5 linked regions of the Homo sapiens genome follow. The gene in region 1 interacts genetically with each later gene. Each region holds a gene or a part of one and is shown in the gene's direction. Other genes may lie near its edges.

Evidence for each region.
Region 2: changes in HSCB (region 1) and PITRM1 together harm fitness less than expected from each alone (positive genetic interaction), as found in Homo sapiens cells (one large-scale study listed by BioGRID).
Region 3: changes in HSCB (region 1) and PMPCB together harm fitness less than expected from each alone (positive genetic interaction), as found in Homo sapiens cells (one large-scale study listed by BioGRID).
Region 4: changes in HSCB (region 1) and TTC4 together harm fitness less than expected from each alone (positive genetic interaction), as found in Homo sapiens cells (one large-scale study listed by BioGRID).
Region 5: changes in HSCB (region 1) and ABCB7 together harm fitness more than expected from each alone (negative genetic interaction), as found in Homo sapiens cells (one large-scale study listed by BioGRID).

Annotation. Positions count from the first base shown.
Region 1 is NC_000022.11:28,748,539-28,752,038, forward strand, and holds part of HSCB (iron-sulfur cluster co-chaperone protein HscB isoform 1 precursor), read left to right. Parts: intron 1-2,702; coding exon 2,703-2,750; intron 2,751-3,500.
Region 2 is NC_000010.11:3,161,170-3,167,560, reverse strand, and holds part of PITRM1 (presequence protease, mitochondrial isoform 2 precursor), read left to right. Parts: intron 1-518; coding exon 519-625; intron 626-1,180; coding exon 1,181-1,332; intron 1,333-2,033; coding exon 2,034-2,148; intron 2,149-2,226; coding exon 2,227-2,323; intron 2,324-3,675; coding exon 3,676-3,836; intron 3,837-6,391. UniProt on the Homo sapiens protein: Metalloendopeptidase of the mitochondrial matrix that functions in peptide cleavage and degradation rather than in protein processing. Has an ATP-independent activity. Specifically cleaves peptides in the range of 5 to 65 residues.
Region 3 is NC_000007.14:103,300,435-103,303,934, forward strand, and holds part of PMPCB (mitochondrial-processing peptidase subunit beta isoform 1 precursor), read left to right. Parts: intron 1-3,407; coding exon 3,408-3,500. UniProt on the Homo sapiens protein: Catalytic subunit of the essential mitochondrial processing protease (MPP), which cleaves the mitochondrial sequence off newly imported precursors proteins. Preferentially, cleaves after an arginine at position P2.
Region 4 is NC_000001.11:54,718,861-54,722,360, forward strand, and holds part of TTC4 (tetratricopeptide repeat protein 4), read left to right. Parts: intron 1-2,302; coding exon 2,303-2,380; intron 2,381-3,500.
Region 5 is NC_000023.11:75,144,520-75,150,910, reverse strand, and holds part of ABCB7 (iron-sulfur clusters transporter ABCB7, mitochondrial), read left to right. Parts: intron 1-6,391. UniProt on the Homo sapiens protein: Exports glutathione-coordinated iron-sulfur clusters such as [2Fe-2S]-(GS)4 cluster from the mitochondria to the cytosol in an ATP-dependent manner allowing the assembly of the cytosolic iron-sulfur (Fe/S) cluster-containing proteins and participates in iron homeostasis.

The DNA of each region.
Region 1 (3,500 bases):
GTCTTGCTCTGTTGCCCAGGCTGGAGTGCACTGGCATGATCTCGGCTCACTGCAACCTCCGCCTCCCAGGTTCCAGCTATTCTCCTGCCTCTGCCTCCCAAGTAGCTGGGACTACAGGTGCGTGCCACCATGCTTGGCTAATTTTTCTATTTTTTTTAAGTAGTGACGGGGTTTTACCATGTTGCCCAGGCTGGTCTCAAACTCCTGACCTCAGGTGATCCATCCATCTCAGCCTCCCAAAGTGCTGGGATTACAGGTGTGAGCCACCAAGCCCGGCCAAAACCCAAATCTAATCACTACTCTTGGCCTTATTTCAATTGACCAGGTGTGATGGCTTACGCCTGTAATCCAAGCACTTTGGGAGGCTGAAGTGGAAGGATCACTTGAGCCCAGGAGTTCAAGACTAGCCTAGTCAACATAGCAAGACCCCCATCTCCATTAAAAATTTAAAAATTAACCAGATGTGGTGGCGCATGCCTGTAGTCCCTGCTACTCGAGAGGCTGAAGCAGAAGGATCACTTGAGCCCAGGAGGTGGAGACTGCAGTGAACCGTGTTTGCACCATTGCACTCCAGTTTCAGCAACAGAGCGAAAACACGTCTCAAAGAAAAAAAAAAAAAACTTTTAAGTGGCTTCTCACTGCTCTAAAACTCTTTAGCATCCCTTACAGGGCCCGGATGCCGTGGCCTCTGCTTCTCTCTGTTTTGCCTTCTCCACTCCAGCCACAATGACCACTTCCAGTTCCTCATCTATACTGGGCACCCTCCTACCCTAGGGCCTGTTGCTTCTGCCTGAAACCCTCCTCTCCTCCGCCCCATTTAAGTTAACCCCTCCTTCTTCAGATCTGAAGGCAATCATCACTTCCTCAGAGAAGCCTTTTTAAGCTATCTATTAGTAGTGGCTATTTCTTTTGTAGGACTAATCACAGTTATAACTTTACTGTTCTATGTGACATTAATTGATCAATATCAGCCTCCCTCATTAGACTGGAAGTTCTGCAGGAGAAATCATGTCTACTTTTTGCTTCCCTCACATCCTCAGCTCACAGAAAAGTACTTATAGTTTAAAAGGAACTTGGTATTTACTAAATGAGCAAACAGTAATGAGAAAAGATGTTTAAAGCAGTAATATAGAATTTGTGGTGAGGGGACCGTCAGCTTGGAGATATGTTCACAGCATTAGGACTGGGTTGTAGGGATAAGAGAAACTCAGGAGTTGCAGTCAGTGGGCTCAGCTGCCCAATTTTAGACGTCAGGGCAGCATGAAGATCTGGAGTGAGGGCAGCGTGCTACTGACTTTGCGTGACCTTGAACAAATGACTTCATTCCTCTGAGCCTCAATTTCCTCATCTGTACGTGGAGATAATATTAGTACTGGTGGTTGTGGGGATCAAGTTAAATGAGATAAAGCACGTAAAAGCATGTATTCTAGGCCAGGTTTGGTGTCTTATGCCTATAATCCCATTACTTTGGGAGGCTGAGATGGGCAGATTACCTGAGGTCAGGAGTTCAAGACCACCCTGACCAACATGGCAAAACCCTGTCTCTACTAAAAATACAAAATTAGCCGGGCATGGTGGCACACACCTATAATCCCAGCAACTTCAGAGGCTGAGGCAGGAGAATTGCTTGAACTCAGGAGGTGGAGGTTGCAGTGAGCCGAGATCGCACCATTGCACTACAGCCTGGGCAACAAGAGCGAAACTGTCTCAAAAAAAAAAAAAAAAAAAAAAAAAAAAACACTTATTCTAGCCCTATAGTAAACATTTGACTTTGAGCAGCTCACTGACCTTAATTTAGATTAATTCCTAAATTTTCTCCTGTAAGGTATCTGCTATGGCCCAGGTAAAATTAATGTTCAAGGGCATAGAGCTAGTTAATTTTAGGGTCAGGGCTTAAGAACCTCCAGGTTCCTAGTCTGTTGTTCTTTTGTGGACACCACACTGCTACCTGAGAGATGAGTTTCAAACACCGGACTGGGAGTCAAGTGACTTGGATTCTGTTCCCAGCTCTTCCACTCATCACCCATGGGACAATTCCCCCAATACCTGTCATTTCCTGCCTTACGGATATAATGTATTTGACAGTGCTTCGAAAGACGACACCATATAAATAACTGACACTATTTATATCTGGAAAATGAGATTACTGGAAAATTCCTCATTTTCTAACAAGGAAACGAGAAATATGAGATAGCTGCTGCTTTATTTTGTTTGGCATCTTCTCCCTTATGACACAACATGATGTAAATGTTTTCATTTTCCTGAGAGGCTATACAGTTTGCAAGTGGTTGCCGGAAACACTCAGTAATGCTTTACTGATAGGTGTTCCCAGCATGTTAATGTTCTCCTTGCTGAAATGTCGAAGACCCAAACTGTTTCGTGGAGATAATCAAAGTATATCTTTGTCTTTTTTTTTTTTTTTTTTTTTTTTACTGATTCTATAGCCATTTTATAAGCCTTGGTGATTGCTCCTTAGACCTTTCATGGTTGGAAAAACAGTGTTATTAGGGTAAACCAGAGTTGTGCTAAACAGCAGCTGCCATCATGGTACACACAGAGACAAAGGTTATGAAGCCTTACCCTTGAATACAAACTTCCTCCTTTGTTGTGTTCAAACCAGCATGATTACAAAGTTTAAGTATTGTCTTCATATTATGAGTCTATTTCAATGGAAAAATTAACAGAATGGTTTTCTTTTTCAGCTAAACAGAAAGAATTTACTGACAATGTGAGCAGTGCTTTTGAACAAGGTACTTTCTTTTCTTCACTTTCTTAAATATGGAAAGAAATTTCAAGCACTGAAGCATAGCCATTCATTCAATAACTAGCTATTATATACCTTCCTATGATAGCTATATAGGGAGATATGAAATACTTATGAGTCTACATTTCTGTCTTTAAAAAAATGCCTTTAAGAATCTACATTTCTGGCCAGGCACGGTGGCTAATGCCTGTAATCCCAACACTGGGAGGCTAAGGCGGGCGGATCACGAAGTCAGGAGATTGAGACCATCCTGGCTAACACGGTGAAACTCTGTCTCTACTAAAAATACAAAATTAACTGGGTGTGGTGGCACAACGCCTGTAGTCCCAGCTACTTGGGAGGCTGAGGCAGGAGAATCGCTTGAACCAGGGAGGCGGAAGTTGGAGTGAGCTGAGATCGTGCCACTGCACGCCAGCCTGAGTGACAGAGCGAGACTCCATCTCAAAAAAAAAAAAAAAATCAACATTTCTGCCTTTCTAGAGAAACAAACTATATCAAAAAAGTGATCTGGGAACAGTGACTCACGCCTGTTATCCCAACACTTTGGGAGGGTGAGGTGGGCAGATCACTTGAGGTTAGGGGTTTGAGACCAGCCTGGCCAACATGGTGAAACTCCAGCTCTACTAAAAATACAAAAATTAACTGAGTGTGGTGGCATGTGCCTACAGTCCCAGCTACTCAAGAGGCTGAGGCCAGGAGAATTGCTTGAACCAGGGAGGCTGAGGTTGCAGTGAGC
Region 2 (6,391 bases), on another chromosome or scaffold:
GGCGCTCTGTTACTTAGGTGCAGCATGGTACCATGGGAAGGGCAGACACCAGGGTGAATCCTGGCTCTGTGATTTAGGCAGCTTATTTCATCACCCTGAGCCTCGGTTTTTTCGTCTGTAAATGAGTATGAGAATACCTCCCTCACAGGATTATATGTGACATGATTAGAAAATGCCTAGCCAAAAAAAGAATAAAAAATTTAAAAAATAAAAAAATCTAAAATACCTAGCCAGTAGTAAGCGCGTGCGCTCTCGCGCTCGCTCGCTCGCTCGCTCTCTCTCTCTTTCTATACACACACACACATATTCTCATCTGCCTTTTTTAGGTCTGTCTTTCCTTGTTTGTAGGATAAGGGACCTGGACAAGATGGTTCTCTTCTCTCCAGCTCTGAAATACTGCCTTCCCGGCATCATCTAATTTCAGGCAGAAAAGCCAGTTTTCTCAGTGTGTCGAACATAACCATTTCAAAGGCCATTTTGTCTAAGTTTAACTGGTCGTGTTTTTCTTGTTAACTCAGGTGACATCTGTTCCCGAGCTGTTCCTGACTGCAGTGAAGCTCACCCATGATGACACAGGAGCCAGGTATTTACACCTGGCCAGAGAAGACACGAATAATCTGTTCAGGTGTGTGGTGCATTGTAAGAACATGGTCTTGAATGTTTTTATTTAAATCAGGAATGTCCATTCTTTTGGCTTCCCTGTGCCACAATGGAAGAAGAACAACTGTCTTAGGCCACGCATAAAATACACTAACACTAAGGACAGCTGATGAGCTAAAAATAATAAATAAAGGACCCCTCAATGTTTTAAGAAAGTGTATGAATTTGTGTTGGGCTGCATTTCAAGCCATCCTGAGCATGCGGGCTGCAGGCTGCGGGTTGGACAAGCTTGATTTAAAACATGGCTATACATTACGTGGTTTAAAATATCATCTCACTAGTATTTTTATTGACAGAGCATCTTGAAAAATAAGGAAAAGTTTACACTGACTTATAATCTCATCAAAATACAATTTTACAGTCTGAGTCAATGATTTACATTATAGTTGGAAAACCCTGTGCTGGAGGATTGTGGTGTCAGAATGATGATTTCTAGTAGCCTGAGGTGATGATGCATCTGGGAACTGTGTCCGCAGCACTAAGCTGAACCTTTTGCGTTCTGGTCATTCTCCTTCCCTAGCGTGCAGTTCCGTACTACTCCCATGGACAGTACTGGTGTTCCTCACATTCTTGAGCATACCGTCCTTTGTGGGTCTCAGAAATATCCGTGCAGAGACCCTTTCTTCAAAATGTTGAACCGGTCCCTCTCCACGTTCATGAACGCCTTCACAGGTAAGACCAGCATCCTGAACAGAAACTGCTTTTGGGTTTGCCAGGCACACCCACTGGAATTCAGTTAGTTTCTGAGAAGGAATGAGGGGAGTGGGCAATTCATGTTCTAGAAAAATTTTTACCTCTCTCTAGTTGAAGGACATTAGAAATTTAATCCTTCAGGAAAGCCACATGGTAGCGAGATTGTAAAAACTAGCGTTTTAAGAAAACATATGTGAACTTTTCCCAGAAAAGTTCAAAACAATTTTCTCTTGGAGATATCGCTACAATGCCAGAGTTACTACTAATGTTGATGTTTGACTTTTAGTAAGACTGACGATAGTGGATAGGGTGACGATGAACAGTGCATTCTGTGGGGGAGTGACATTGAAGAGCGGGTTAAATCCATGCTGTTACAGAATGAGGTCATCTTTGTAGATGTATGAAAGTCTCTGGAGAAACTTGAGAGAGTTTAGATATTCGCTGAAGAAAGCCCTGGTGCCCGTCGAGTGCAGATCCTGAGACGGGATGGGAAAGCCGGCACTTGGGGTTATGAGCTGGGACAGCTGCTGAGGCCAGGGACCAGAGCATGGGGCCACTGCCCCATCCCAAGAATAGCTACAGCTTACTGTCCTAGGACAAAGGGGGAATGAGTCTTGAGAGTCAATAATTTTAGTAGAAATCTGTTATATTTTACAATTTCACTTTTCATTTGTACCCAGCTAGTGATTATACTCTGTATCCATTTTCCACACAAAATCCCAAGGACTTTCAGAATCTCCTCTCGGTGTATTTGGATGCCACCTTTTTCCCATGTTTACGCGAGCTGGATTTCTGGTATGTCATGAATGATTAACTAGTTGATACAGACTTTAGTATTTGAGTCACTATCAGCTTATAATGATTTGTCCTCAGGCAGGAAGGATGGCGGCTGGAACATGAGAATCCGAGCGACCCCCAGACGCCCTTGGTCTTTAAAGGAGTCGTCTTTAATGAGATGAAGGGAGCGTTTGTAAGTTTTCTTCCTTTTTTATGTTGTGTTCAGCTTACCTTTCCCATGTACAATATCATGATATAGACACATCTGGAAGATTTTATTTAATATTCTCATTATAGGTGATACATTCTTGAATTAGCTGGGGTCAGTGCTGTGAGCAGAAGTCGGGGTAGCAGGGCCAGGCTGCTGTTCTTCCCAGCAGGTCTCAGACCATGTCTGGGGACCCCTGGTATGTGATCTGCAGCAAGTCTGTGAGATAAAAGCTATTTTCATACCACTACCAAGACAGTGTCTTTTCATTCATTCTTGCCCAAGTACACGGTGTACTTTCTAGAGGCTGCATGGCAAGGTGTGTGACACACAGCGAGCTGCATACAGAGCAAATGGGGGAGTCCAGCTTCACCTCTGAGCCAGACGCTACAGAGATTTGCAAAAAAGGCAACACAGCACCACTCTAATCAGTTTTTTACTTTGTTATGAGAAGTATTTTTCAAAAATATTTATATCAACATGTAATGATGGCTTACCTTAATGAATAAGTATTTTTTAAATGTCTCAGCTTTAATTTAGAATATAGAAAAATTATATAAACACACACAGGCACCTACACAGGCAAAAACGCCCACATAATCAAAAGCTGTTTGGGTCCTCATTAAAACGCATTTATGCCTAGTGTTCCATTATTGGCACCCTAAGCTTGTGGGAGTTATTTATGTCCTACAGCTCAAGGTCATCGCCAAGGTCTGATTTTTTACAAAAAAATTGCAACCTCAGGCATAAATGGGTTAATTTTTCAGAGTGTAAAGGATTCTTGAGACCATTTTGGATTAAGAGCTGCTGTCCTGGGCCCATGTCTTCATGTCCCTTTGTGACTTGGACAACCTGTCTGTCCTGGTGTCCCTGAGGCTCATGGGTGGCCTGCTCTCTGATTCCCGTAGCTCCTCTCGGCTGGTGAACTATTTCTTACCTTTTCATTCTCAATTTGGTGGTCTTTTCTTCCAAGGAGTCTTCTTGAACTCAAGTTGGGGTGACAGCTTCTCCCCACTTCCCTCACGGCTGGTGGGCAGACCGACTGATCCATCCCGATTTACAGCCCTCAGCTATGCGTTTGTTGCACCACACATCAAAAAATCCATTGTTCTTCTCAATCCTTGGGTCCTGTGCGTGGGTGATGAATGATTGAATACCGTGTTAAACAATGCCTGCGTGGGTGTTTTTTTTTTTTTTTTAAACCATTAGAACAGCTTTATTTGCAAAGTATTACAGGTGTATGCACCAGAATGTGATCAATTGGCTATATTGTAAGTAATGTAACGTGTGTATTATTTTACATGTATACTTATGATTTATTTATTTTACGTTTCAAGACAGACAATGAGAGGATATTCTCCCAGCACCTTCAGAACAGACTTCTTCCTGACCACACGTACTCAGTGGTCTCCGGGGGTGACCCACTGTGCATCCCGGAGCTTACATGGGAGCAGCTTAAGCAGTTTCATGCCACTCACTATCACCCAAGCAATGCTAGGTAATATTTTGTTGGAAAAGTTTGATGGTGGATTGTGAAAAGTTGACTTGTTTGTGTTCTTAACAGTTTATGGCATGGCTTCTCTCACATTTAGCAATGCTTAAGAAATATCTAAGTCTAGGTAAGATTCTTGGCCTAAGTTTGCCTATCTTACTTGGACATTGATTTTGGACATTTACAATGATAGCCCTCAGGAGGCTCAGCATGGTGGTTACAAACACAGCGTTTAGAGTCCCCCAGAGGAGGGTCCTGGCCCCGCAGCCTGTTGCCTCACATCTAGCTTGGTTGCGTGGAAAGTGGGGGTGCATGGATGGTGCCCACCTTGACACGGGGTGTGAAGCTTGAAGCCCTCTCCTTGGCACGGAGAAGTGCTCTTCCAATAGTGGATGCAGTTACTGAACCTTAATTACATCCTCACTTTCTGATACATTGCTTGTTCTTATGTCACTAATACAAGGTCATTATAATAATAATATAGTCATATATCTTATATAAAACACTAATTGTATTTACATATGAATGCTAATGTAAAAACATATTTGCAAGATTATTTTATGTAAAAATAATTATGAAAACTTGAAGCATACAGAAAAGTAGAGATACTAGAATAATGAGCCCCTAAACACTTATCATGTAATAGATATCCTTTCCCTTGCTGAAGTTTTTGGAAGTAAATTATAGACGTCATGATCATTTGCCCGTAAATGTTTGAATTTGTGACCCTAAAACGTGAGGATTTTTTCTTACATGAGCTAATGCCATTTTCAGTTTTAATAGAATAAAACATACTTTCTTAAAACTGCCTATTTCTTATTCCATATTCAGATTTTCTAGTTGGCCCCAAAGTGTTTGTTGCACGGGGTCCCACAGGTCACACCTGGTCGGCCCGGGTTTCTCCTGGGCACCCTCTAGGGGACGGCAGAGGAGTGTGCAGGCCCAGTTTCTTTCTGGCGCACTCACTTTCCAGGTGGCCTGGCTGTTCCCGCCTGGTGTTGGGTGCCATGTTCCTGTGTTTCCTGAGCACTGGAACTTAGATCCAAAGACTTAGTTTGAGTCAGGCTGTGCCTTTGTAAGCAGAGTCCCTCATGGGGAGCTCTCCATAGACGGCCACATCCTACCATCATGTGAGGTCTGCTCGCCTCCACTGGGGATCTCACACCAGCGGGGTCCATGCTGAGAGTCAGCCACTGCCTTGGGAAGATCTGCTTTTTCCCTTCAGCCACAGACCATCTGGTGGGCTTGAGTTTCTGGTGTCCTGTGATAATGAGTTCCTCATCAACCTATTAATGGTTTTCATATTCATTGAGGATTATTGCCTGAATCAATTACTTTATTAGAGTTTGCGAAGTTTTCTAGTTCTGTAACTTCTTCATTTGTTTGCTGGACTTCTTCAAAGAAGAGCTCCACATCAGCTGGGCTATCGGGTTATCTTGAAATATGGTTCTGTGGAAAAGGCAGGGCCGGCTGCTCTCCCTGGGAAGTCCAGTTTGAGGAGGAGGGGTGGTGCAGGAACTACTTTTAATGGTGACAGAAGAGGCTGTCTTGTTTTTTTTTTTTTTTTTTTTTAAAGACAGGGTCTGGTTCTGTCCCCCAGGCTGGAGTACAGTGGCATGATCTTGTCTTACTGCAGCCTCAGCCTCCTGGGCCACCTCAGCCTCCTGAGTAGCTGGGACTACAGGCGCACGCCACCATGCCCAGCTAGTGCTTATATTTTTTTGTAGAGACAGAGTCTCGCCATGTTGCCCAGGCTGGTCTTGAACTTCTGAGTTCAGTCTGCCCACCTTGACCTCCCAAAGTGCTGGGATTACAGGTGTGAGCCACTGCGCCCAACATGGAGAAGAGAGTTCTTTCTTTTCTTCTTTTTTTTTTTTTTCCCCAGTCTTGTTTTGTTTTTTAGTACCACTCTGACCTCACAGAAATATTTCTGTATATGTATATATTTGAGATTATGTGATCAGATGGAATTTATTCATTTTTATGCCCACATTTGCCCCAGCTGTGGGCCCGTTTTGGTCTAACTTCTTTGGTTTCTACGCCCCCACCCCCACCTCCCTAATGCACGCACAGCCGGGCCCTCCCTGCTCCAGAGGTTCAACTGTCTGTTTCCCCAGGGAGCTCTGATTTCTGTGGCTAATGGGGAAGGGTCTTTGGAGAGCAGCATCTGAACACTAGGGGTGGTGATTGCTCCTGGATTCTCTCAACCCCGAGTGTGTAAAATTTGTTTCTAAATTCTAGAGTGAGAAATTTCTGAAGGTTCTGTAAGATACTAGTTTCCCAAACCTTAACCATAGCTCAGGCTATATAGTAAAGAAAAAGATAAATTCTGTCATTGTAACCTTTTTCCTCTGGTTGAATAAATGTGTTATCTTTATAAACGTGTATAACCTTGAATTTGTTGCCAAAAATTGAGTTTTGTGAAATTGTCAGTTGGATTACTATATTACTGTACCTAGGGTTATAAAGTGTTTTAACAAATACCTCATTTGGTTTTTGTCACATCTAGATGAAGTTTAAAATGTAAGATCGATTTTTGGCTAGGTGTGGTGGCTCATGCC
Region 3 (3,500 bases), on another chromosome or scaffold:
TGGGTGAGGGTACAGCTGATCTTATTTTTTTTCTAAATATGACAAATAGTAAATTATGGATGATGGTTTTTCTTAATATGTAGCAATAAAATAGAGATTATTTGGTGGGAATAAAATATTTTGTCAGGACAGCAGTTTGTTAGTTACCATGTTTGTAGACTGTTTTGACTCTCTTAAAAGTTATTACACAAAACATTTCCCAGTGGAAGAATTAACAACAAAATTTAGCAGTTTTAGAGCTAATTGGTAAACTCATTATTTTTGTTTAGAGAGATAGTCTCGCTCTGTCACCTAGGCTGGAGTGCAGTGGTGTGATCTCGGCTCGCTGCAACCTCTGCCTCCTGGGTTCAAGTGATTCTCCTGCCTCAGCCTCCTGAGTAGCTGGGATTATAGGCTCCTGCCACCATAGCTGGCTAGTTTTTATATTTTTAGTAGAGATGGGTTCTACCATGTTGGCCAGGCTGGACTTAAACTCCTGACCTCAAGTGACCCACCTGCCTCGGCCTCCCAAAGTGCTGGGATTATAGGCGTGAGCCACTGTGCACGGCCATTAGTGAAATTTTTAACCTTTAAGGTCCTTCTGTAGTTGTAGTTACTACTTTGCAATTTTGGATTCCTAATAGACTTTCATTAATAATGTTTAAATGGCACTTAACACAAGTACTTTTGTGTATATATTATCCATTTGATGTGCATAGGTGTTTCCACCTTGCAGTTGTGGAAATTGAAGCTCAGACTCTGACTTGCCCAGGATTGCATAGCTATCAGGTGGCTTACTGTGGACTCAAGTGCGTGTCTTCTTACCAGATTCATTTGCTTTGTCAAAACAATAAAATAAGAAACCTATCACTTGTAAATAACTAAAATACTTAATATGATACCCTAACTTTTGCATTAAAACAAAAATGACAGCAACGATGGAGGGTATGTTGGTTTGAATAACAAAACCAATAGAGACAGTTTTTGTCCCAGGACTAATTAGGGACCAAGAACATATGGCTAGGCCAAGGTTCTTTAAAGAGTTGTTCATTCCAGCCTAGTTCCTTCCTTTATTTACACAGAACAACAGGGAAGGCAAAAAGGAGAAACAGAAAAAGGAAGGATGAAATTAAACGACTTTTTTCCCCCTTTTCTCCTGGCATCTAGCTGGGAACGACAGAGCTTCTGCTAGTGGGAGTGGAAAAACAGGGGCTTTCCCTGAGGAATGCAAAATGGAAGTGCTCTCTGAAGCAGCTCCAACTTTGGGGATTTACTTGGGGTTTTTCACCCTTCACCCTGGGTGTGAAGCCTGGTATATGAAGTAATAATTAGATGTTTAGACTAATGGTCTCCAGGTTTTTATGATCACTTATTCTTTTTTTTTAATTTTTATTTTTTATTATTATACTTTAAGTTCTAGGGTACATGTGTACAACGTGCAGGTTTGTTACATATGTATTCATGTGCCGTGTTGGTGTGCTGCACCCGTTAACTCGTCATTTACATTAGGTATATCTCCTAACGCTATCCCTCCCTGCTCCCACCACCCCACGACAGGCTCCGGTGTGTGATGTTCCCACCTCGTGTCCAAGTGTTCTCATTGTTCAATTCCCACCTATAAGTGAGAACATGCGGTGTTTGGTTTTTTGTCCTTGTGATAGTTTGCTCAGAATGATGGTTTCCAGCTTCATCCATGTCCCTACAAAGGACATGAACTCATCCTTTTTTATGGATGCATAGTATTCCATGGTGTATATGTGCCACATTTTCTTAATCCAGTCTATCATTGATGGACATTTGGGTTGGTTCCAAGTCTTTGCTATTGTGAATAGTGCTGCAGTAAACATACGTGTGCATGATGATCACTTACTCTTATTGGTAAGAAAGTTGATCATATATCCTTAATGTATGTATACTTGTAAGTTAAATACATGTGCTACTATACTAACATATATTAAATACACATTTAAAAAAAAGATTCAGATTAAAACAGACTGGGAAATAGGAGCCCCCCTCCCTGCCTTTGGAAACTACCAGGGTAGACCACCAATCCCACATAAAGGAGGATTTTCACACAGGAATTCTTGTCCTTCCATTTGTCTATGGGCTCTTTCTCACCCATTTTACTGGACTCTGTTCTCTTATCTGGACAGATGGGTTTTATTTGGTTTTACAGATAATTTTTTCCTTTTGGTCATGATCTCAGCCACAGCTTACTATAATAGTTTGTTCTGTCATGTTCTTAGTATTTGAACATAATCAGTTCTGAGACAGTGCCCCTTAAAGTGAACTTAATTAAAACAAGCAACAACAGTTTGTAGTAGAGTAAAAAATGAAACCTAAACCAGACACGGTAGTACATGCCTTTAGTCTTGGCTACTTGGAGGAAGCTGAGGCAGGAGGATTGTTTGAGCCCAGGAATTTTGAGTCCAGTCTGGGCAGCATAATGAGACCTTGTCTCTTAGGGGAAAAAAAAGAAACTTAAGATTGTAAGTTTATTTTATAACATTAATCGTATTAATGAAATTTAGATTTATGATTGCAACTATGTACTAATTCTTCAAGAATGAAGCACAGTTTTTTTTTTGGAGAGGTATGCGCTTTTTCTGATAAAATTGCTTAATGGCCTAATATAACATGTTCCACTTCACTTTTGGCTTTTTGCAAATTAGGGTTTGAGAACACACAATTCTGTGATTCATTTGGGGCATATTTTAGATTGTAAGGATTCTTTTCTCTGTTGCCCAGGCGAGAGTGCAGTGGTGCAATCGCAGCTCACTGCAATCTTTGCCTCCCGAGCTCCACCCATCCTCCCATCTCAGCCTCCCGAGTAGCAGGGACTACGGGCACATGCCACCACACGAAGCTAATTTTTGTATTTTTTGTAGAGACAGGATTTTGGCATGTTCCCCAGGTTGGTCTGGAACTCCTGGGCTGAAGCCCATATTAGCCTCCCAAAGTGCTGGGATTATATAGGTGTGAGCCACGGTGCCTGACCAGTTCTTTGCTTCTTAACATAGCACTGTCATTGCTGTGGGAACTTGCATAGTAAATACTTGGGTGATACAAACCCTCTGTACATTGCTAGCTAGGTATTTTCAGACTAATATATATAACTTTGTAATTTTCATATAGAACAATCTATATTAATATGCAAATTTCCATAGCATTTTTTAAGTAGGTAGAGTCATTACAAGGTGATGGCAAATTTATACTTTTTCCCCAAGGAAAAAATCTTTTGTACTATAGGGGTTTATATGTTAAATTTTAATTTTGTCCTGTTAAGTATATCTGATGTTTTTCTCCTAGGCTAATCATTTAGTATTGAGTGATGGGTCAGTGTCATGATTTCTGATTTTGGTTTAATAGATTTTAATAGTGAAAGTTAAGATTGCTGGCACGTTTTCTTATATTTTATTTTCAATTAGCTGTAGAAATTCTTGCTGATATAATACAAAACAGCACATTGGGAGAAGCAGAGATTGAACGTGAGCGTGGAGTAATCCTTAGAGAGATGCAGG
Region 4 (3,500 bases), on another chromosome or scaffold:
AAGTGATCCACCTGCCTTGGTCTCCCAATGTGCTGTGTACTCAGTGGACCTTTTCAGTCTGGAAACTCATGTTTCTAGGACATTTTCCTGAATGCTTTGATATTTTTCTTTTTCTTTTTTACTCTTTTTTCTCTTTTTGGAAATCCTGGCTGCTGGTACTTTGGGAACCAAGTAGGAGAAGAGGACCAAGGGCTCAATCTTTAATATTTCCTTTACTGAATCACCTTTGTGCCTGGGGGTTCCAGTCCAGAGACCTACTGTTTTATTGTCTGCTAGGGTAAACCTCCAGTCCTCCACCTGGAGGAACAGGGGAGGAGTAGGTCACTGGTGCAGCAGAGGGGTAAGGAATATGGGACTCTGACTGCTTCTTAAGTAGATTTTCAACCCACCTTCACCCCCACTTCCAGAGGTACCTGGTGCCATCAGTTCCTGAGTCCTGAGTACTTTGTAGTTTCTGCAGTGCAGCTTGGTAGCTTTTGTGCTTTCCCTCTACTGGTTTAGAATTCAGTTTCCTTAAGCCTGATACATCAGTTACTTGTTCCTTTGTTTTCCAGCTTTCACAATGTGTTCTGTGTTCTTCTCATTTTCTTTGTCTTTATGGGAGAGAGAGTGGGGATTGAGTTAAATGTATGTGTTCAATCTGCCTCCTTTAACTAAAAGTCCTTGGATCCCTTTCATGTGCATTTTTTTCCATGGTTGAGATCCTGCTGTTCTTCCAGTTTGATATTCAGTTTTTTCACTTAATTTTATAACAAACAATTTCACCGTCATTAAAAATCATTTCTGAATGTTATTTCAATAGCTAAAGTTGCATCATATGGACATGCCACTATTTATACTGTTTGCTTTATTAGTCTGCTATTGTTGAGTATATAGACTGTTTTTTGGTTTTTATAAATAATGCAAAAATAAATAAAGTCATAATATTTTTCTGATAATTCTGATTATTCATTAGGCTAAAGCACGATTTGGCAAACTAGGACTCAGAGTCCACCCCTGGCCCCTTGGCTTGCCATGAACTAAAAATGTTCCATACTTTTTTTTTTTTTTTTTTTAAAGTGACAGGGTCTTACTCTGTTCAGGCTGGAGTGTACTAGCTGTGATCATAGCATAGTGCAATCTTAGACTCCTGGGCTCAAGCAATTCTCCCACTTCTGCCTCCCGAGTAGGTAGAACTATAGGCATGTACCACCATGCCCAGCTAATTTTTAAAAAATTTTTTGTAGAGAGAGAGTCTTGCTATATTGCCCAGGCTGGTCTTGAACTCCTGGTCTTAAGCAATCCTCTCACCTCGGTCTCCCATAGTGCTGGGATTGCAGGAGTGAGCCACCTCCCCAGAGGTTTCTTACATTTTTCAAGAATTGTAATAAAATGAAGAAGAATGTGCAGTAGACCACATGTGGCCTGCAACACCTAAAATATTTATCTGGCCCTTTACAAAATATTTTGCTGACCCCTGGGCTAGAGATTTAGGTAAATACTAAACCATTAAGTAATAATTATAGTATACTCCAGAAAGTTAAAGTATACCTCATGGCTTGCTAGTTTGGATAACTGGTATGTGTGTGACTGCATACTTTTTTTTTTTTTTTAATGCACTTACAAATATATACATGTGTGTCTAGATATTTAGTTTTTTTTTTTTTTTAAATAGGCTTCCTCTATACTCATAGAACCACCACTTAAAACAATATAGAACAGACATCCTACCGTGTTTCTTACATGAGGATCTATCTCATTCTTTTTAATGGCTGCATAGTATTCAATAGTATGGATTTACCATAATTCATGTAATCATTACCAAATTGAGGATATTTGAGTTATCTCCAGCTTTTCACAATTAAAGTAATGCTGTAGTTAACATGCTTTTACATTTATCCCTGCACATTTGTTCAAGTATTTTTGATAATTTTCCAGAAGAAAATTGTTGTGTCAAAGTATATGTACAAAATACATGCTAATTTGCTTTCTAATTTACCCTGAGAGTACCCCTTTTCCATATCTTTTCTAATACTAGATATTATTTGTCTAACTTTTAGCAATTTCTTAATTTTAATTTCCTAATCATTAGTGATGTTGAACGTCTTTTCATGTGCTTACTAGCCATTTACAGTTCTGTAGATTGCCTGTTATAGACATTTCTAAGGCTCTTGACAAGTACAACCATATTTTTTCAAAAAAACAGTTGCTCTCATTTGTATTTCCCCAGGATTGTACAAGAGTGTCTTTGTCACTACATATAAAATTTTGGAAACATTTTGATCTCAAAACTTCTCTCTTTTACTAAACGGTGTTTTGTTAGGCAATTTTCGTTCTGCTCTCAATGATGTGACAGCTGCCAGAAAGCTAAAACCCTGCCACCTCAAAGCAATAATAAGAGGTAAGTCTTGTGGAACTACAGTATGACATTTAAAGCTTTGATATGAAGGTGCTAGGATACTAATAAAGTCATCTTATTTTTGCAGTCTGGGTATTAAGTTCCTGTTCCTTATCAACAGCAACATGCCACTTTTAAAAGAATTCCTCAGAGAGTGACTTAACCCTTTATGTAATAATAATTTGTAGAGAACTAGAAGCCCCTCATTTTAAATTAATAAAAAATAAAATTAATTAAAACAAAGCAGTTGCAAAGCCATATTCTGATTTTTTTTCCAAATTAGCTGATTGAAAGGCAAGGTCTTCAAATGCCATGTTAATGTTAATTAAAAGATAAGTTATGGGACCTTTGCTGATGACTTTGGTGCTGAGATGTTCTCAGATTATGTTTTCTCTTGTAGTCTGACCTTTCTATGTAATAACAGTGCTTTTATTACTTTTATACTTCACCTTTTCTTTGAGAAGCTCATAGGTGCTTTGCAAACTTTAATTTATTCATCACATATTAATCTTCCCTGCATCCCCATGGACCAGCTTAAAATGCTTTTTCAAAATTATGCCTCTTTAAATGTTCATGGTTAAGGGCAGTAGGAAGATCCATGTCCCTCAGCTGTAGGAAAAGAAGGTACTGAACAAAGATTGGCTGATAAATTGAATCTAGGTAATCCTGTGGAATTTGCCTCAGGCTAGAAGTGTGTAATCCTTGATTCAGTTGTTGGTTTAATTTACAATGTGACCTTGGCAAGACACCCACTTTGAATATCAGTTTGCTCATCTCTAGAAGATGGGGTTAGAATCTGTTGGCATCTAAGCCCTTACAATGCTTATATTTTGAAATTCTGTGGAAAACCTAAAGAGGCTAACTGGAGAAAAATGTACATGATAACATGAAATTTTTTTTTTTTTTTTTGATGGGGGAGAGGCAGCTTAAACTGGTAGCCATAAAGAACAAAATTAGGAGACACCTAATGTTTTTGGCCTTGCCACTGCCTTGATGAATAGCTGAAGCAAAGTCTGCTTTTTCCCTCCATTGAAAAAATCATCTGGGATGGACTTTATTCTTCCTGTTTGCAGATGAGGAACCTAAAGCTTGGATATGCTTGGTCCTTTGTCTAAGGTCTAGC
Region 5 (6,391 bases), on another chromosome or scaffold:
CGGGGTAGAAATAGAGTGGAAACTTACATCAAAATTTTGATTAAATGATAAATGCATAATTGATCATTTAATTATTGTTATACAATTGTTATAAAATTAATATCATTTATTGCTGTATTGTTGTCAGTGTTATCTTAAAGATTTTGCTTTTTCAAAGAAAAGTATGTTCTTTCCCATATTGTAAAATAAGGTATATAATAAGAGATAAAATTGCCCATTCTGTATACGATTCTTATGCTTTACATTGTCCCCATTTTAATTATACAAAACCACATCTAATAAAAACGTCAAGACAGATATCTACAATCCCACATGTTAAATAATTTTTCCTTTTTCCTTTGAATCTCTGTTCTTTCATGTACATAATTTTTACATTATTGGGATAATTTTAAATTCTGTTTTTACTTGTGAGCATTTTTTTTCTTGGTGCTCAGTCTTGACCAAAATTAGGTCTTTTAATTACTTAAGATTTTAGTAATGTTAATAGGTATATATAGTTACCTGCAAAATGTGATATTTTTGTTGTTTTGATTTTCTCCTTCCTTTCCTGAAATCCATCTCCCTGAAGTCCTCATCTGTGCTCTCTTGACTCCCTTGTAGGATTTGCCACTAGTGAGTAAAGATACTTTTCAAGTCTTTATTTAATGTCATTTGGTCTTCACAGTAATCCGGTTAGGTAGATGAACATTTCTTTGTAGTAGCAATGGCCTCTTCTGTCCTTTTCAGTCCCTTAACTTCTGCCCTAGTTTTAGACCCTTATTACTTTATGCATGGGTTTTGTCCCTGCTTTCAGGGACTTGCCCTTTCAATCCATCCTATACAGCACATCTAGATTATTCTTCCTAAGGCATGACTTTTATCCCATCACTTCCCTGCATAAACTTCAGTGGGCTTTATATCTTAGCCTTAAAAATTTCCACCTAACTAGATTGCTAGCCATATTGTAAACTGTTTCTCTACAAATACCCTGTCCCTCCAGTCACCCTATATTGTTCCCTGTTCCTTGGACCATGTGCTTTTTTGTGTCTGTTCTTTTTTTTATGCCACACCCTATGTCTGAAATGCCCTCTCTCTAACTGGTGCCTATTTTTCAAATGTTAGTTCAAAGGTCAGTCCGTTCCCTGAAACCATTCCTTATAAGCTAATAAGACTTTGATTTCTCCCTCCTCTGAACTCCTACAACACTTTTTCCTACAAGTAGTTATGTATCTTGTGGAGGAGATAAGATTTTATGTGCCTAAAATGCTAATATATTCCAATCATCTTTTTGTTTTTATCTTCCACAGAGCTAGGCACGGTATGTTACATGTAATAGGTAATCAGAAAATATATGTAAAATGAATGATTAAACTCTATAACCAAACCAAAGCAAAAATCTAACATAATAATTAATAATATTTGCTCCACTGCTATACATTTGGAATTGAAAGCTAACTTTCTTCAGGGCAACCTCATAAGTTTGTCCGTTGCATTTCTGTCATTAGGCATATGGTACCGTGGTGGAGTAGCATCACTGATTGTTGTCAGTTTTAGTTCAATAACCAAAGCACACTTACTTTTTATCCTAAAATTTTTGAGTTACTTTATTTGTGAGCATCATTTGCTAAGATAAAGTGACTTACAGGATAACATTCTTTGAGGAATAAGATATAAAAATTTGCTGTTTGTAGAAATTTTAACTGCACACTGTATTTTGGGATGTTCATTAGTCCTCTGATTAAGTTTTCTTTACAATATCTAGAGAGGGATGGATATTAAAGTAGGGAAACCGCATCCTAAGGGTATAGTTCCTTAGGTGCTGATGTTTTGGGAGAGCAACTTTTAAACTTCTGCTTTTCAAAGCATATTAGAAAAAGACAAGGTGAAGCTTCGATTTTGGTTTACTTATAAAATTGTTTTTACTGATCTTGAGTAACTTATACTATAATATTGTAATATATTCATATTTTTGAGTGCATGAATGTTTGCTAAGTATGAACTCTTTCTTCAACTACTCTGACTGTAGTGACTTAATAACTGTGCATGTACATGTGTGCTTGCCTGCTACGTTTGCCATAACACCACAGATTGGGTGGCTTATACAACAGAAATGTATTTTCTCACAGTTCTGGAACCCATGAAGTCCAAGATGAAGGTGTCAGTAGAGTTGATTTCTTCTGAGGTCTCTCTCCTTGGCATGTAGATGGCCATCTTATACCTCTGTCTTCACACTGTCTTTTCCACTGTTTGTGTCTGTGTCCTGATATCCTCTTCTTAGAAGTATACTGGTCATATTGGATTAAGGCCCACCTTAATGACCTCATTGAACTTTAATTACCTCTTTAAGGGCCCTGTTTCCAAATATAGTCACATTCTGAAGTATTAGAGGTTAGGACTTCAACATATAAATTTGTGGGGGTGGGGAGTACACAGTTCAGACCATAACAATGTGTGTATGTGTTTGTATGTGTGTGTATGTATATGCAAATACATAGAAAATTGGAAAGATATACTCCAGTCTGGTAAAAGTGGTTACCTCGGGGGTTGGGGGGGGGTTTGGGATGCTAAAAAACAAACAAAAAAAATTTAATTTGCTATTATGGATACACAGACATAGTTTGATATACTGTACTTGTTTTTACAATGAGAAAAATATTTCATGTTTAAGCTTTTCAATTGATGAACTGACCTTTTTGAGTAGGTTATATTATGTTCATTTATTTGAAGTCCAATTTGTTTTGTCTGCTAGTAGTAATGCATTTTATCATCTCTGTAACTTTTATTTTATTTGTTTATTTTTTATTTTTTATTTTTTTGCGATGGAGTTGTGCTCTGTCACCCAGGTTGGAATGCAGTGGCACAATCTTGGCTCACTGCCACCTCTGCCTCCCAGGTTCAAGCGATTCTCCTGCCTCAGCCTCCCAAGTAGCTGGGATTACAGGCGCACACCACCACACCTGGCTAATTTTTGTATTTTTAGTAGAGATAGGGTTTCGCCATGTTGGCCAGGCTAGTCTCGAACTCCTGACCTCAGGTGATCCGCCCACCTCGGCCTTCCAAAGTGCTGGGATTACAGGCCTGAGCCACCACGCCTGGCCTTGTAACTTTTATTTTAAGTTCAGGAGTACATGTGCAGGTTTGTTACATAGGTAAACTTATGTCATGGAGGTTTGTTGTACAAATTATTTTATCACCCAGGTATTAAGCCTAGTAGCCATTAGTTATTTTTTCTGATCCTCTCCCTTCTTCCACCTTCCACCCTCTGATAGGCCCCAGTGTGTGTTGTTTCCTTGTATGTGTCTATGTGTTCTCATCATTTAGCTCCTACTTGTAAGTGAGAACATGTAGTACTTAGTTTTCTGTTCCTGTGTTAATTTGCTAAGGATAATGGCCTCCAGCTCCAGCCATGTCACTGCAAAGGACGTGATTTTGTTCTTTTTTATGGCTGCATAGTATTCCATGATATATTTGTACCACATTTTCTTTATCTAGTCTGTCATTGATAGGCATTTAGGTTGATTCCATGTGTTTGCTATTGTGAATGGTACTGCAATGAACATACGCATGCATGTGTCTTTATAATAGAATGATTTATATTCCTTGGGGTACATACCCAGTAATAGGATTGCTGGGTCAAATGGTAATTCTGTTTTTCATTCTTTGAGGAATTGCCACACTGCTCTCCACAGTAGTTGAACTAATTTACACTCCCACCAACAGTGCATATAAGTGTTCCTTTTTCTTCATAACCTCACCAGCATCTGTTATTTTTTGACTTTTTAATACTAGCCATTCTGACTGGTGTTAGGTGGTGTTTTGTTGTGATTTTGATTTGCATTTCTCTAATGATTAGTGATGTTGAGCATTTTTTTTTTTGTGTGCTTGTTGGCTGCATGTATGTCTTCTTTGGAAAAGTGTTTTTTTCATATACTTTGTCCACTTTATGTTTTTTTTTCTTGTAAATTTGTTTAAGTTCCTTATAGATGCTGGATATTATTAGAGCTTTGTTGGACGCATAATTTGCAAAAATTTTCTCCCATTCTATAGGTTGTCTGCTTACTCTGTTGACAGTTTCTTTTGCTATGCAGAAGTTCTTTAGTTTAATTAGACCTCATTTGTCAATTTTTACTTTTGTTGCAGTTGCTTTTGTTGTTTTTGTCATGAAATCTTTTCCCGTGTCTCTGTCCTGAATGGTATTACTTAGGTTGTCTTCCATGGTTTTTATACTTTTGGATTTTACATGTAAGTCTTTAATCCATCTTGAGTTAATTTTTGTTTATGGTATAAGGAAGGCTCCAGTTTCAATCTTCGGCCTGTGGCTAGCCAGTTATCCCAGCACCATTTATTGAATAAGGACTCCTTTCCCCATTGCTTGTTTTTGTCAGGTTTGTTGAAGATGATATGGTTGTAGGTGTTAGGCCTTATTTCTGGAGTCTCTATTCTGTTCCATTGGTCTGTGTGTCTGTTTTTGTACCAGTACCATGCGGTTTTGGTTACTGTAGCCTTGTAGTATAGTTTGAAATCAGGTAATGTGATACCTCCAGCTTCATTCTTTTTTCTTAGGATTGCCTTGGCTATTTGGATTCTTTTTTGTTTCCATTTGGATTTTAAAATAGTTGTCTCTAGTTCTGTGAACAATGTCAATTACCATTGACATTTAATAGGAGTAGCATTGAATCTATAAATTGCTTTGGGCAGTATGACCATTCTGACTATATTGATTCTTCCTATCCATGAGCATGAAATGTTTTTCCATTTGTTTGTGTCATCTCTGATTTCTTTGATTAGCGGTTTGTAGTTCTCCTTGTAGAGATCTTTCACCTCCTTATAGTTAGCTGTATTCCTAGGTATTTTATTTTCTCTGTGGCAATTGTAAATGAAAGTTTGTTCCTCATTGGTGCTTGGCTTGATGGTTGTCGGTGTATAGGAATGCTAGTGATTTTTGTTTTTATTTTTTTATCTTTTTATTTTAATTTTTATTTTTTTAGAGCCGGCCTTGACTCACTGCTAGTGATTTTTGCACATTGATTTTGTGTCCTGAGACTTTGCTGAAGTTGTTTATCAGATTAAAAAGCTTTTGGGCTGACACTATGGAGTTTTCTAGATACAGGATCATGCCATCTGCCAACAGGGATAGTTTGACTTCTTCTCTTCCTATTTGGATGCCCTGTATTTCTTTCTCTTACCTGATTGCCCTGGCCAGAACTTCCAATACTGTGTTGAATAGGAGTGGTGAGAGAGGGCATCCTTGTCTTGTGCTGGTTGTCAGGGGAATGCTTCCAGCTTTTCCTCATTCAGTATGATGTTGTGATGTTGGCTGTGGGTTTGTCACATACGGCTCTTCATATTTTGAGGTATGTTCCTTCAATATCTAGTTTATTGAGAGTTTTTAACATGAATAGATGTTGAATTTTATTGAAAGCCTTTTCTGTATCTATTGAGATAATCATGTGGTTTTTGTCTTTACTTCTGTTTATGTGATGAATCACATTTATTGATTTGGGTGTGTTGAACCAACCTTGAGTCCTGGGGATAAAGCCTACTTGATTGTGGTGGATAAGCTTTTTGATGTGCTGATGGATTTGGTTTGCCAGTATTTTGTTGAGGATTTTTGCGTTAGTGTTCATTAAGGATATTGGCCTGAAGTTTTTTTTGGTGTTGTGTCTCTGCCAAGTTTTGGTATGAGGATGATGCTGGTCTCAGAATGAGTTAGGGAGGAGTTCCTTCTCAATTTTTTGGAATAGTTTCAGTATGAATGGTACCAGCTCTTTGTACATTTGGTAGAATTCAGCTGTGAATCTGTCTCGTCGTGGGCTTTTTGTGGTTGGTAGGCTGTTTATTACTGCCTCAAGTAAAGAACTCATTATTGGTCTGTTCAGGGATTCAATTTCTTCCTGGTTCATGGAGATCCTCCCATACTCTGAGCGATCACTCCTGCTTGTGGGACATAGAGAAGACACCAATATCTGAGATGGCCAGCACCCCATCCCAGAATAAAAAAGTCTTTAATGCATTTATAAAGCATTCCTGGAAGTATTTGCTGCTTTTAAATGTAACCAGTTTTTGGTTGTTACTTCATTGCGGAATTGGGAGATTCTTTGGAAATTGAGTCCTAGTGTTTCCTATTCATTTCAGTGGTTTCTCCTCTTGCTGTGCATATTTGATTCTGCATATTTGATTCTGCCTAATAAAGAGCTATTTATACTTAGGTTTCTTTTTTTCAAAATCAAGTTTTTATATTAAAAAAAATTACAAAAACAGTACAAACCCACTACTGAAAGATTAGAAAATACAGAAAAGCCAAAAAAAAAAAAAGCAGCTATGCTAATAGGTCAGTATAACCTATACTTTTAATAATACCAGCTAATATTTTTATAGTGTTTTAGTTTACAAAATGCTTTAAAATTTTACT